2 linked regions of the Homo sapiens genome follow. The protein of the gene in region 2 interacts with the protein of the main gene of each other region in a pairwise test. Each region holds a gene or a part of one and is shown on either strand. Other genes may lie near its edges.

Region 1 (7,000 bases), on a different chromosome or scaffold from region 2:
CAAGTGTGGAAACAGTTGTTTCATATTTTGTACACTGCCCATATGGTTCAAAATCGTATCCTTAGACACAAATCGCCTGGCGCTTGCACTGAATTTTTGAAAATGCAAGATTTCTGAATGATAAATTAACCCCCCCAATTTTTTTTTTTTTTTTTTTAAAAAAGCTAATTTTGCAGACAGGTTTACATGTAAAAGGCTAGGTATTTAGCCACCTCAGCATTGATTAGTTTTGGATGTCTAAGCTCTGTTACACATGGCTTCCCATGGCTTCACTCTACAAAACATATTTACAACGTGAAGGATACATCTACAAGAAATCTACATTTCAAGGGTTTTACAAATCAATCTTGTATCTTTCCCCTGAATTGACTCTCACAGACCCCGTCCCCTTGTCATTTCCTTTGCCCAGCTTAACGGTCCAAAGTCTACTTAAATGCAGCTCAAAAATGTTAAGATTGGGCAACAGATTTACAGTTCCTGTTCTCAAAACCATGTGCAATTATTCACATCTTCACACCATGAAGGAATTCTGATTTTTTAGCTTTTCAAGTTCCTTAATTTGTTGTCTCAAAAATAGTATCCTGAAAAAAAAAAGCAGACATTAGAACCTGTGTACATATACAAATATTACAGAAAACCCGAGCTTTTATAATTAAAATTTTTTAAATTAAAACAAGTGATTTCTAATTAAGGCAAAGAAATTTAAAAAATTATTTAACTATAAATTGGTTTACAGTTAAGACAAAGTAAACATTTAATACATAATATCTATTAAAGTATAAGGATGATGAAAGGATGTTTTAGTTTTCAAACAACTTTTTATTTTATTTTATTTTTTGAGACAGAGTCTTGCTCTGTTGCCCAGGCTAGAGGGCAGGGGTGCAATCTTGACTCACTGCAATCTCCGCCTCCCGGGTTCAAGCAATTCTCCCTGCCTCAGCCTCCTGAGTAGCTGGGATTACAGGCACCTGTCCTTACGCCCGGCTAATTTTTATATTTTTAGTAGAGACAGGGTTTTGCCATGTTGGCCAGGCTGGTCTTGAACTCCTGACCTCAGGTGATCCGCCCACCTTGGCCTCCCAAAGTGCTGGGATTACAGGCGTTAGCCACCGCGCCCAGCCTTTTCTAACAATTTCTTAATAATTCCTTTGGCTCTAACAACTTAAAATGTATTACTTTATAAACCGTATCATCACAATAAAGAAAGCAGTAGCTATTATACATGAAATAAACCTATACTGCATGTTTTCTGGCCCACTATACAGTAAAGAGTAGAATTAACCAGGTGTAAGAGATTAATCATTTAGAAGAGCAATTCTCAATGTAGATGTAGGTACATAAAAATGAAGCCAAAAACCAAAAGTTGAAACACACAAACCCCAGTTACCCAGATTCCCATGAACGTAAAAATATTTCCTGTTTTTACTCTTCTCTTCTGGGAACTATAATATTTATTGCCTGTACACATGAATTAGGCATAATCAGGCTGGCTTGATATTTGACTGTATATACTGTTTTCCTAAGATGCAATAATGAATAATTTCCCAAAAGTCGAATGATGTAACAAGCCAAAATGAAGTTTGTTAGAACTACTTTCAGAGCAATCTGACTATAAGAACCCAAGTTGTTACTCAGAGAGTACCTCCAGATATTTTAGTAACTGTAAATAAACTTACTTTTTCAAGTTGTACTATAAACTCCATTTGGTATTTACTAAATATTTATGGTTTCTTGACAAGATTCAATCGACCTGTAACTCTGTGACTTGCACAGACAGGACATAAAGCCATTGCCAAGTTTGTCCTCAATTCTGTAATAGGCATTAAAAAATAATACCTATGCTATTATTATTGTGACCTAGATATTCTACTTGAGTGAAACACTAGATTAAGAAATACAAGACAAGAGTTCAGGTGAAAAATACTAAGACAGCAGATACACTAAACTTGCTAGACAAATTCTTTCTATACTTTTCAAGGGATCTATTGATGATGCAAGGACAAATAATCTGAAATTTCAATGGAAACACCCTCAGCAAGAGAGGACATTTATAATTAGTTGTGGTCAATATTTCATTTTTTCAGTAATATATTATTGCAGCTTATGGAGTTATGAGAAAAGTCTAATGAAGCATTCATCATGGGTTAAGAGAAAATCGACAGGCTTTATCCTTCACGAGAAATATTAACTTATGAAAATGCAGTGATAGAATGTGATCAATGTATCGAAGAGAACTTTACATTTCATAAATAAAATGTGATTTACATTCTTTAGTTCGATTTAAGAATCATAATCCTGAGAAACATAAAAATATATTTCAGTGAAAGACTTACCTTTGCTCTCGCAAAGTTGCTTGAATTTCACATACTCGGACTAAAGATCTTAAATTTTTTAATTCAGTACAAATTTCGGACATGTGAATAGTTCCCATGTTATGCGCTTCTTCGCGTAATCTTGATGCCTGTAATTAAAGAAATGAAGAAAACATAAAATATAAACATTAACATACACAAAATAAAACATTAAATTTCTGAGTACAATTTTATACTAGGATTAGAGAATAATCCTTTTCCCTTCAATACACAAAAATGCTGGTGAACCTAATGGGGAAAATTAATTTGTTTTAAGAAACTGTCTCTAAGGGTGGAAGGTACTTATTTTAATATTTCTCTTCTAAGTTGGAGAAAATAGGATTTCCAACCTGAAGCTAATACAGCACTAAGAAAGGACTCATAATTTGTGGTTAATAAAAGATGCTGGGTCAGCCAAAGAGATTGTCATTTCTGCAAGTTCAGGTATTAGATATTGATTCAAGAGCCTCACTATACTCCTCTATCGTAAGACACACAACATATTCTCTGTAAACTTTCGAACACCCCAGATGGTCAGTTATCTGATAAAAAGCAAGAGGCAAATGGCAGTAACTGGAATGTCCTAAGGTCTCTCATCCCAAAGCAAAAATGTTTCCTAACTTCCAGTTGCTAGTCTAGTGAGAGAGTCATAGAAAATTAAGTGGGGTTTTTTTTTGTTTTTTTGAGACAGAGTCTCACTGTGTCACCCAGGCTGGAGTACAGTGGTGCAATCTCGGCTCACTGCAACTTCTGCCTCCTGGGTTCACGTAATTCTGGTGCCTCAGGCTCCCGAGTAGCTGTAATTACAGGTGCATGCCACCATGCCTGGCTAATTTTTATACTTGTGGTTAGAGATGGGGTTTCACCATGTTGGTCAGACTGGTCTCGAACTCCTGGCTGGCCTCAAGTGATCCACCTGCCTTGGCCTCCCAAAGTGTTGGGATTACAGGTATGAGCCACTGCGCTTGGCCAGTAGATTAACAGTGCTAATGGAATCTGAAACTATCAGAGAAGCTGAGTGGAAAAAGTACACTGGCTTTGAGCCACATCACTGTTAACTGGGTGACCCTGGGATCAAGGTCTTATGCACTATTTGGTCTTAAGGACTTCAACTCTATCTACACTGCTTAGCTGTTTTAAGAAGTAGAGAAAATAAATATAAGGCATTAAGCACTGAGCTAACTGCTGAGTACTTGACAACAGTGCCTATAATTATGTTAAAATATTTTGTAAAACCAGAAAAGTTATCTTATATATCAAATATTTTTTAAATGACTACAAAGTTAGAGATTCATTATTTTAAATATTGCTTGAATTCAGTGGTCACATTAGATTCTCTAGAAGTTGATTAAATTCTGTTTTGCTAATCATCCAAAGGTAAAATCTAGGCTGTACATAACATACCTGCTTCTCTGCATGATCTGCAGGCCATCCTTGAACGTGTTTTATGAGATTTTCACTGAAGTGTGCTGCTAGTGCAGGCGTTAATGAACACGTGGATCGGGCAGAAGAATTCTGTGGTACAACTGTTGCATTTGATGCATTACTACTATTAGAAGTATGATTGGGACCAGGTGATGGACTTCTCTGGCTACTAGAAAACAGAATTGAATGTGTAGTATGTTTAAAAGTAGTTTCTGGGTATCCTTATCCTAGAAACTGCATGTTAATACCTTTTATTAACTTAAAGATATCCAAATTCCTAAGAAAAATTTGTTATTTTAATGTCAAATAAAGAGAATTAATAATCCAAAGTATATGATTCCTCAAAACACTTTAGGGGGAAAAAACCCTTTTAACACTACTGTCAGAGTCAAATGTAAACTACTCTCCAAATCTGAGAGCAGAACCTGTTAACTTTGTGTACCACAAACACTAATAATATAACTAAAAAAAGTCACATTTTAACAGCTGTAGATGCACATCTGAAGACTGCTCATACACATCTAGATAAGGGGAAAATATATATTGCCTTTGTTCAACGTCAGAACTGCTGAATCAGAGGGTGAAATAATGTGAAGCAAAATACAGACATTTTATTGGATAGCACTGAACAAGCACAGTGGCAAAACAAAACCAAAAAAATAACACTCTGAGATTCTTTATCTTCTTTTAAAACTGAATGGTTTGGGCCAGGGTTGGGGATATGGTGGTGAGAACCAAAAAATTTAATCACCCAAGTTGATCTCCTACCTGCTTCACCAGACTTGGCTCTGAATGAATTTCAGTTATTTCCAAAAACTAAATCTCCCAAAGGATGAAGAGTTTTCATCACTGAGGATATTTAAAATAATACTGCAGCCTCTAAAAACAATTTAAAAGAAGAATTTCCCAAAAATGTTCAGAGCAATGGCAACATTGCTGGAGTAAGTAGACAGCTTCCCAAGGTCATTATTTTGAAGGGAACAACTCTCATTTGGAGGTGTAAGTTCTGAAATGCTTGTTTAGAAAACAACAATAAAAACAACAGTTGAATTATTTTGCTACCTCATAGCATGAAATAAAAAACAGGAAAATCAATCAAATGAAAACCATTCATTCAACAAATGTCATTTAAAGTTGTGTTGTTAATGAACAAAGAAAAGTGCTAACACAATACAGCAGTATAGAACTATCTAAAAAGCCATCCGTATAGGGTCACAGTTAAGCTATTGGGAAAGCCTGACATATACCAGTTGGGAAACATTGGCCCAAGTTTTAGATACCAGACTTTGGCTTTCATCAATATACTCAAACCAAAACTGCTATGAGGAGGTTAAAAAGTAAGGTAATTCCAACAAATATTGTAAAATCGTGTGCCTTTCTGGTACAAGTATCACAAATCTTTAGCCCCGTCATATTCCACTGTGTAAAATTTTAAAGAGCCACTTTCTTCAAAATAACCCGGGCTTCACTACTAGAGACAATAACCTACCTCTTGTATACAGGTTTGTCTTTGTAAATTTTACAACATGTAAGCCTACTTTAGGGTATTCATGGAGTTTAAAGGTTAAGTTCTATTTTACAGATATAATATTCAAACAATGCAGTGTACCATCATTAAATAAAACAATGTGGTCTCAATATACAATATCAACCTACCTTGAGCGCTGAAGACTTCGAGGAGAGACAGGTTCATGACCTTGCTGCTTGTCAGCAGTTACAGGCTGCTGTGTGGCTGACTGTGACACTGGTCCTTGCTTAACTACTGGAGTACTAACCTGAAATGTCAAAATCTGGTGAGATGGTCTCCAAATCTAATCCACATCTCTCCCCCCAAAATCTAGGTAATCGTCTTGAAACATGTAAAATGTGGCAGTCAAGTTCTGAAACTTAGATCTCATTTCTTTGTGAAAATGGCCCAAGGTCATAAAATTACTTCCCTATCAAACTAGGGCTGGGCGCGGTGGCTCACGCCTGTAATCCCAGCACTTTGGGAGGCCGAGGCGGGCGGATCACGAGGTCAGGAGATCGAGACCACGGTGAAACCCCGTCTCTACTAAAAATACAAAAAATTAGCCGGGCGCAGTGGCGGGCGCCTGTAGTCCCAGCTACTCGGGAGGCTGAGGCAGGAGAATGGCGTGAACCCGGAAGGCGGAGCTTGCAGTGAGCGGAGATCGCGCCACAGCACTCCCGCCTGGGCGACAGAACGAGACTCCGTCTCAAAAAAAAAAAAAGTAACTAGTTCTCCTTTACAGCTCAGTTTTCTTTCCAATACATTATTATCTCTTCTGATTTACTGTTACTTTTATATCAATAAAAGTAAATTATGTATGCTACCACATCATACACATATGGATGCTTAGATTTTAATGATATGGAGAAATATGTGATTGGGCTATCAGAAAATGAGTTATGGCCCATATAAAGTTCAACATGAGAGTTTTTCAAAGAGATGTTACTCTACAGAGGTAGACTGAAGTCCATGATTGCCAATCAGGATATGTATTATATTCAGAAGCCACATAGAGAAAAGCAGTTTAAAATATAAGCTCTAAATTGAGGCACAAAGGCAGATGGAGTCCTTTGTGATTAAGTCACACCTCACTGCTGTTTTTCTTTTGGTGGGGTGAGGGGATATGATTAATAATTCTCCCTAACAAATCTGGAATGTCCTGCTTAACTTCTGAATATTACCTATCAATTCTAGTCAAGTCTTATAAAGAACATTTTATAAGCACTACATAAAAGCTCAAATGTTCAATTATTTTAAAAACAACTTGAAGAAGTTTTTGGAACACAAAAAACGAACAGCTACCTGCTTAAAGGATTTTTTTTTTCCAGACAGGGTCTTAGTCTGGTTGCCTACTCTCAAGTGCAGAGTGACGTGATCTTGGCTCACTCCAACCTTGAATTCCCAGGCGCAGGTGATTCTCCTACCTCAGCCTCCTGAGTAGTGCACATCACCATGCCCAAGAAAGTTTTTCAGAGTTTCACTCTCTTGCCCAGGCTGGAGTGCAGTGCCGTGATCTTGGCTCAACTGCACCTCCACTTCCCAGGTCAAGTGATTCTCATGCCTCAGCCGCCCGAGTAGCTGGGATTATAGGTCTGTGCCAGCACACCCAGATAATTTTTGTACTTTTAGTAGAGACCGGGTTTTGCCTGTTGGCCAGGCTTGTTTCAAACTCTAGGCCTCAAGTGATCTGCCTGCCTCGGCCTCCCCCAGCAAA
Region 2 (7,113 bases):
ATTCATGTTGAATGTATTTCATAAGAAAAGAAAAGTGAGGTGGAAAAGAGATTTCTCTCACCCTAAAACGTAACTGTGTTTGGGCTGTAGCCTCTAGAGCTGGCTCTGACTAAAACTGACTATTTGTAAGACTAAAATATCAAAGGGAGTTATTGAATTTTCTCTTTTTGAGTTTTGGTGCATGTATATTGTCTTCATCATAGTTATTTCTCACTAAGAGCAGGAATGGTGCTCCGGGAAACTCTTAGGCATTCCATGCCTTTATACCCTGTGAAAAGATATGCTTTGTAAGGGAGTGTTTAAAGTTTTAAATTTATTTCTTCATTTGTTTCAACAAATACAAATGAAAGACCTATCTGGAAGGAATCCAATGGGGGCAAAAATGTTTAAATGAATAAAAATATACAATAATGTAAAGGCCCAAATTAGTCAGCAAATGAAATATATGTTTGTAGATGATCTTTGTAAATTTTGAAATGGAACTCATGATTTATCTATTTTTTTTTCTCTTTCTCCACCATTCCCTCATTTTGGTGGCTGACACAGGAAATAAGACTTTTAAAAAGGGAAAGAAGAAGGAGTCACCTGTAATCTCTGGAGGAATACTAGAAGTGTTCATCAAAGAGGCAAAGAATTTGACAGCAGTGAAGTCAGGAGGCACTTCTGATAGCTTTGTGAAGGGGTAACTTTGTTTTAGCTCTTTTTGGATGATACTTAATAGGAGATGAAAGGATCTGTGATCCACAAGCCACTGGTGGCTGTGAGCCTTCCGTGTTCTGTTTACTAGAAGTGTATGGGTGAGAACTACCCTTACATGCTGGCTCTTACATCTAAAATAACACAAGTGTTGAGGGAACTGCTGATTCTAGCTGTCACTCTGTTTCCAACATATTTCAGGAATTCCCATCACTCTTACTCTCAAGACAGTCAACTTTTTTCTGTAAGATTCATTTATCGAAAGTGGACAAAAGTATGATTTCCTATGTATAATGTATTTATATTGTTCTTTATTATCATTTTGTCCTGGCAATATGCAACAATCACCAAAATATCAGATCCTTGATATTTTTCTCTCTTGGGGGAAATTGTAAAAAGTAGAGATGTCAGAGCATCCTTGCTGGACTTATTCACTGTCGAGTGCTTTGGAGAGGCTCCAAGACCACCTGCTAGGCATTTGTGCCCAAGTTGTGGAGCAAAGGGCAGCTTCCTGAGGGAATGCAGCCTTAAAATGGATACTTTTGCCTAACTCTAGGCAACTCAAACATCAAATCCCTTTTGATTCCTGACTACTGGATATTTTTCTCTTGGAAATTGAGAAACTAAGACTGCAAGGTTATTTTTCAGTCATTCAAACAAACACAAAATGCACATGTGCCAAGCACCAGGTGCTATGCTTTCAAAAATAAATAACATATTATCCCTGCCCTCATGGAACTCCGTAAAGCACATAAGGTAAAACAAATTCCCATGATGCCAGACCATGAGGTTCATTCTTTGAGTCGGATGGCAATATTGTTCCTCTTCACATGCTGTATTGGAAAAGAGTATTTTTTCCTACAAGGAAATGGGTTGAGCTCACTCTCACATGTTATTTGTTGTTGTTGTTTGTTTTTGTTTTTGTTTTGAGACAGAGTTTCACTCTGTTGCCCAGGCTGGAGTGCAGTGGTGCCATCTCGGCTCACTGCAACCTCCGCTTCCCAGGTTCAAGTGATTCTCATATCTCAGTCTCCTGAGTAGCTGGGATTACAGGTATTTTTATTTTTATTTTTATTTTTAGTAGAGACAGGGTTTCACCACATTGGCCAGGCTGGTCTTGAACTCCTGACCTCAAGTGATCTGCCTGCCTCGGCCTCCCAAAGTGCTGGGATTACAGGCATGAGCCACCGTGCCTGGCCACATGTTCTAACTTTGGTAAAGCTAGTAGTGGGGAGAAGCAGTTCTGGGGCCTCCCCATTGGTGAGTGTGTATGCCTGAATCCTGGCACATCTTCCCTTCACTCTTCCTTGCAGTAGATTTAAGCATAGAAGAAATGCTTTCTTTGGATACTGCAGTTACAATTTGTGTCATTAGCCCTACCATCCAGTTTAAGCTTCTGCTGCTGGAATGAGGAGATGACTCCCAACCCGTGGCCACATTGTGACCTTGCAACGGTACTTGACATCTTCTGGAGCAGTATTCACTTTATCTTGTGGAAAATGTATAAAGCAGAAATAATAAAAGACAGTATTTTTGTTCTAGAAAGAAAAACAAAAGCCAATAACTTTCCGGTAAATTCTGTCTATAATAATACTTAAATATTAGGCTGATTCTAAAAAGACATGAGATTTTTTTAAAAGACAGTGAGGGAGCAAGAATAGACCCTCTGTAAAGTTTAATAATATAAAATATATCCATTAACATTAGGTCGGTCTGTGAGCCAAAAGAACAGTGGCTTAAACAAGACAAGTTTTTTTTCTCTCTTACATGTAAACAAAGACTGAAGGTAAGGTCCCCAGTGCAGGTATGGAAGCATCATGATTATCAGGGACCCAGGATTTTTCCATCTCGTTATGGTATCCACCTAATGGGTTAGGATAGCTGCTCCTGTTTCAGCTATCCCACACAAATTCCAGCTGACAGGACACTTTCCAGATGTAAGAAGTAGTTTTATCAGCACTACTTCTTATATCCCATTGGCCAGAACTCAGTCACATGGCTATTCCAGCTGCAAGGGAGGTTGGGAAATGTAGTCTTTATTCTGGGCAACACTGTGCTCAAATAAAAACACAGTTTTTTAGAGGAATATAAGGAGAGAATGGATATTAGGAGATAATAAGCAGTCTTTGCTTGGTACATGAAATTAAATCTTAAGTGACTTAATGTATCTTCTTTATTGTAAAGTCATTTGCTTGTAGCACTTTTCGTTTTTGTTCCATGTACTAATTCCATATGTACATATGTCTTCTTTTCTAAAGTATGCTCCCTGAAGGGGGAAAACAGCCATTTTTATCACATACCTAGAGCCTCATACAGTGTTTTGACCATAGTCGAGAAAACCTAGGATACAGGCGTTTTATTTGAAGACAAATTTCAGGAAACACCAGTGAGGAAGTGGAGAAAATGAAACAAGGAAGAAAGAGAAGTTGATTAAAACATATGTTAATGGGCAGGTTACCACTGTGGGCAACTGGAGCATGATTCCACTAGGGAAGCAGTGAGGAACTCTGTGGAATATACCTTAGGATTGTCACTTTGAGGGACAGGGAAGATGGGGAAATTATCCACCAATTTCTCAAACTCATCAGTTAAAAGTTGCCCCAGGGGTATTAAATTCCAAGTAATCCCAGAGTTTCCTACACATAAGCTGAGCCAGCTAACACAATATCAGATAAATTCCTTAATTAGAGGAATTTATTCCTTGTATCAAGAGACACAAGCACTTGAGGTGGGAAGCTGAAAGTATATCAGGAACTTCCCATCCTGGCTGCAAGTCAGCTCCAAGGAGGCCAAAAAGATTTGAAGCAAGGCATTCAATAGTGTCTATTACAGGAGGTATTTTCTTTTCAAGATGGAAGGAAGGACCTAAATAAGATTAGAAAGGAGAGTGAGGGCATTTTACTAATGTCCCACTGGGAAGAAATAATAAGTCAGTTCACTATATAAATCCAGATTTAAGCATATAGAAGCCTGGGAAGGAAAATCAAATAGACACATCACACTTGTGTACACGCTGACATTTTCTGTCTGCTGTCTTATTGATGATTTGATTGTTTTTTCTCATGCAGCTACCTGCTCCCTGATGATAGCAAAGCCACCAAGCACAAAACTCTGGTAATAAAAAAGAGTGTTAACCCTCAGTGGAATCATACATTCATGTTCAGTGGCATCCATCCCCAGGATATAAAGAATGTTTGCCTAGAACTTACTATCTGGGACAAGGAGGCCTTTTCCAGCAACATCTTTCTGGGAGGAGTTCGTTTGAATTCTGGAAGTGGTGAGGGATTTGGGGACCCACAGGGATGGTCTGTGACTAGGCCCAGGTGGGGGCGCTATTCTTGCAGATGTGATGTGCAGTGGATGTATATATATAGTTTCAGCTAAATCCTGAAATTACCACAAATACTTCATTCCTTTAGCTAAGGATCTATTCATTGTTAAAATACAAATATAACTACAGTAACTTTGTATCCTTAGGCTAGAAGATTGGAAGATATCATATTTATATTCAATCCTTTCATAGACTAGCATTTACACCTTAGTCTAAGTGAATTGTAAGTACTTTCTTGGGCCTTGCTTCATATTTTGCTCAGGGGATGATTACCAAGACAGCATAGGCTTCTGATGGGAGGAGAGCGACTTTCAAGACCAACATTACTTCATCATCTTCTCAGTTCTGTCCAGCACTTGCAGCTATTATTCATACTGGTTGAATTGAAAGGAAATCATTTTTTCATAAAAATAACACCAGTATTGTTAAAAACAGATCAAGGAAACCCACCACTGGTGCCACAAGACGCAACTGTAACAGGGTGAATTGGAAGAGGGATTACAGTAGTAGAGCACGTGCATTCCCCTAACTCTCATTATCCCATAGCCTAAGCCAGACATAGATGAGACCATCAGCATACACCATGGTAAACATTTCTGTTGAGGAAGGTCCTATCACTATGATAATTACTTATTTATAGATTAAGGGGAGCCAAAAATATCTATACCACTAAAAGGAAAACTCCCCAGGTCAGAAAAGTGCCCTTGTTAGAAAAAGAGAGCCAAATTCATCCCATTCTTCTGTCATGTTAGCACAGTCCAGATGAACCAGCTCTCTGCTAAAGTAGGGAGGAAGTGAGTCACCAGGGCCACCCCGATTTGCCTCATATGGCCTAGGCATTAGAGAATAGTGCAGGCTGAAATGATTGATTGATTCAATTCTAACACCACTCACTATATATACTAAGTGAGAACAAGCCAGTAAAAGGTACTCTGGTGAAAAGGCCTGCTCAGAAGTTGATAGATACCTTGCAGGAGAGCAAAGCATTTCATGTGTGACATAAAATTTTCCCGTTTCGCCTCTTCAGGTGTGAGCCATGGGAAGAACGTGGATTGGATGGACTCTCAGGGGGAAGAGCAGCGCCTTTGGCAGAAGATGGCCAACAACCCTGGAACTCCCTTTGAGGGTGTACTCATGCTTCGTTCCAGCATGGGAAAATGTAGGCTCTAAAGGGACCAGTTCTCCAAGAATGAGGCCACCAGGACCTATCTGGCTGTCTTTTCCTACCATTAGCAAACTGAGACCTGGGATTCTGCTTCCCTGCCATTTCTCACCTGACAGTGTTGGGACATGAGGGGAGAGATGTCAGTAGTATGAACATTTAGGGTCTTGCTGAGTGCCTAAAAAACATATATTTCCATCCAATCAAGGCCTTCTTGATTGGATGATAGAAAGTGTACTACTTGTCCTGTCAACAAGCAAATTGTGCAAAGGCTTATAGGGTTTATGCCATAAAAGAAATGGCACAAGCCTCCATTTGCTAATTATAAGTTACTTTAGATTTCCTCAAATCCTTTGAAGAGAAAGAGGACCACTGAGAAGGTAGATCACTTGAAAAGTCAGAAGAAAGGATACTGGCCAACTTTTACTCACCCTAGGAATCCACATGATCTCAAGAAGGCATGGTGGAGATGGTTGCTTGAGCAAGGGGATTGTCCTGTTATTGCAGCAAACTTGTGGATTAACCAAGTAGTATTTCAAGATGGATTGACAGGGCTTTCTATGATTACTATAGAATTTATCATCTAAATCAGTTTACTTTTTAGAACAAAGAGAGCTAAATAACTACATCAGAACGATTGATGTTGATTAGAATTGACCTGGGAAAATTGGGATGTAGGGTCACCCTACTGATGACCTAAGAGAGCTCTGTTTTAAACATTTATTTTATAAAATGTTCTAAGCCATTAACTAAAAGGAAATGAGATATAATGGTCAATTGATATACCTTTTCACATTGTGTTCACTGACGAGACTAGTTTAATGAAAAAGGAGGTACTCTACCTGCTATTTTACTTCTGTTCCTCTTCTGCCCTGTTATGGGAGAGAATCAAAGACTCCATCTGCTCTCTTCCCCCTTGTTTTCTCCTTCACTGAGTTTTTCTTATCTCCTTTTGCAGTGGTTAACTATTGTCACAATAATGCTGAATGAAAAAACACACCAAATGTCAGTGGCTTAAAATGACCATCCTTTTTCTCACAGTTATGAAGATTGGCTATGGCACCTCTGCTTCCTGCTATAGGCCTGAGGTTCTAGGGCTTCTTATGCCTCATCCTCTTTAAGCCAAAGGGATAGCCAGAGCATCTTGATGGCAGAAGTGCAATAAGATGAGCCCCACTGCTCGGGTACATTTTCAGCCCCTGGTTGTGTCATGTCTACTGATATCTCATTGGTCAAAGGAAGTCAGAGGGCCAAGATGAAGAGGCAGGGAAATATGCACTGCCCACAGTGAAGCCATGACAAGAGTGAGGATGCAGGAAGGCATGAAGAATTGGGGCCAACAGTTCAATCTACCATACCTTCTCTCACCTGGAATTCCAGATGCTTGAGCTACGAAACTTAGATGCAAAGAAAGTTAAAGCTAGAAGGAACCTCAGGCCCAGTTGCTCATTTTGCAGATTCCAAATGTGAATTTCAGAGAGCTGAGATAACTTGCCCAAGGCCATATAGAGGCTGTGACTAAATCTGGACTTAAATCCAGACTATCAATCTTAGGCCAGTGTTCTTTTTTCAATATAGTCCTTGGCATAATGCTATGCTTATTAGGTAGATAAAAGGGCTTATGTCAAGAAATTTGGAGCAGAGTCTGATTACTTGAGCATGAACATACCCGACCAAGGTATGTTCTGGAGTCATATTCTAGCCTCTGAGCTCATTTTTTCATGCGAGTTCATATAAAATCCTCGAAAGTTTAGAAACTAGGTTTTAGTAGTAACGGAGCTAGAATCATCTTCGGGCTTATTCCTGCTAGTTGTTCCATATTTCTAGATTTCATCTTGAATTTTGAAAACTGATTTAAGAATATATTTAGTATTATTATTAGTAAGGGAATACGCAATCCAGTTTCAATTTTATTCAGAAGTAG

What was found. The genes of interacting proteins can lie anywhere in the genome.
Region 1: the proteins of SYTL5 (region 2) and WAC interact in binary tests that used the Homo sapiens proteins (3 or more experiments, as listed by UniProt).

The regions. Positions count from the first base shown.
Region 1 is NC_000010.11:28,613,118-28,620,117, reverse strand, and holds part of WAC (WW domain-containing adapter protein with coiled-coil), read right to left. Parts: intron 5,552-7,000; coding exon 5,433-5,551; intron 3,946-5,432; coding exon 3,756-3,945; intron 2,462-3,755; coding exon 2,334-2,461; intron 582-2,333; coding exon 512-581; 3' UTR 1-511.
Region 2 is NC_000023.11:38,121,534-38,128,646, forward strand, and holds part of SYTL5 (synaptotagmin-like protein 5), read left to right. Parts: intron 1-546; coding exon 547-682; intron 683-3,764; coding exon 3,765-3,973; intron 3,974-5,054; coding exon 5,055-5,197; 3' UTR 5,198-7,113. UniProt on the Homo sapiens protein: May act as Rab effector protein and play a role in vesicle trafficking. Binds phospholipids.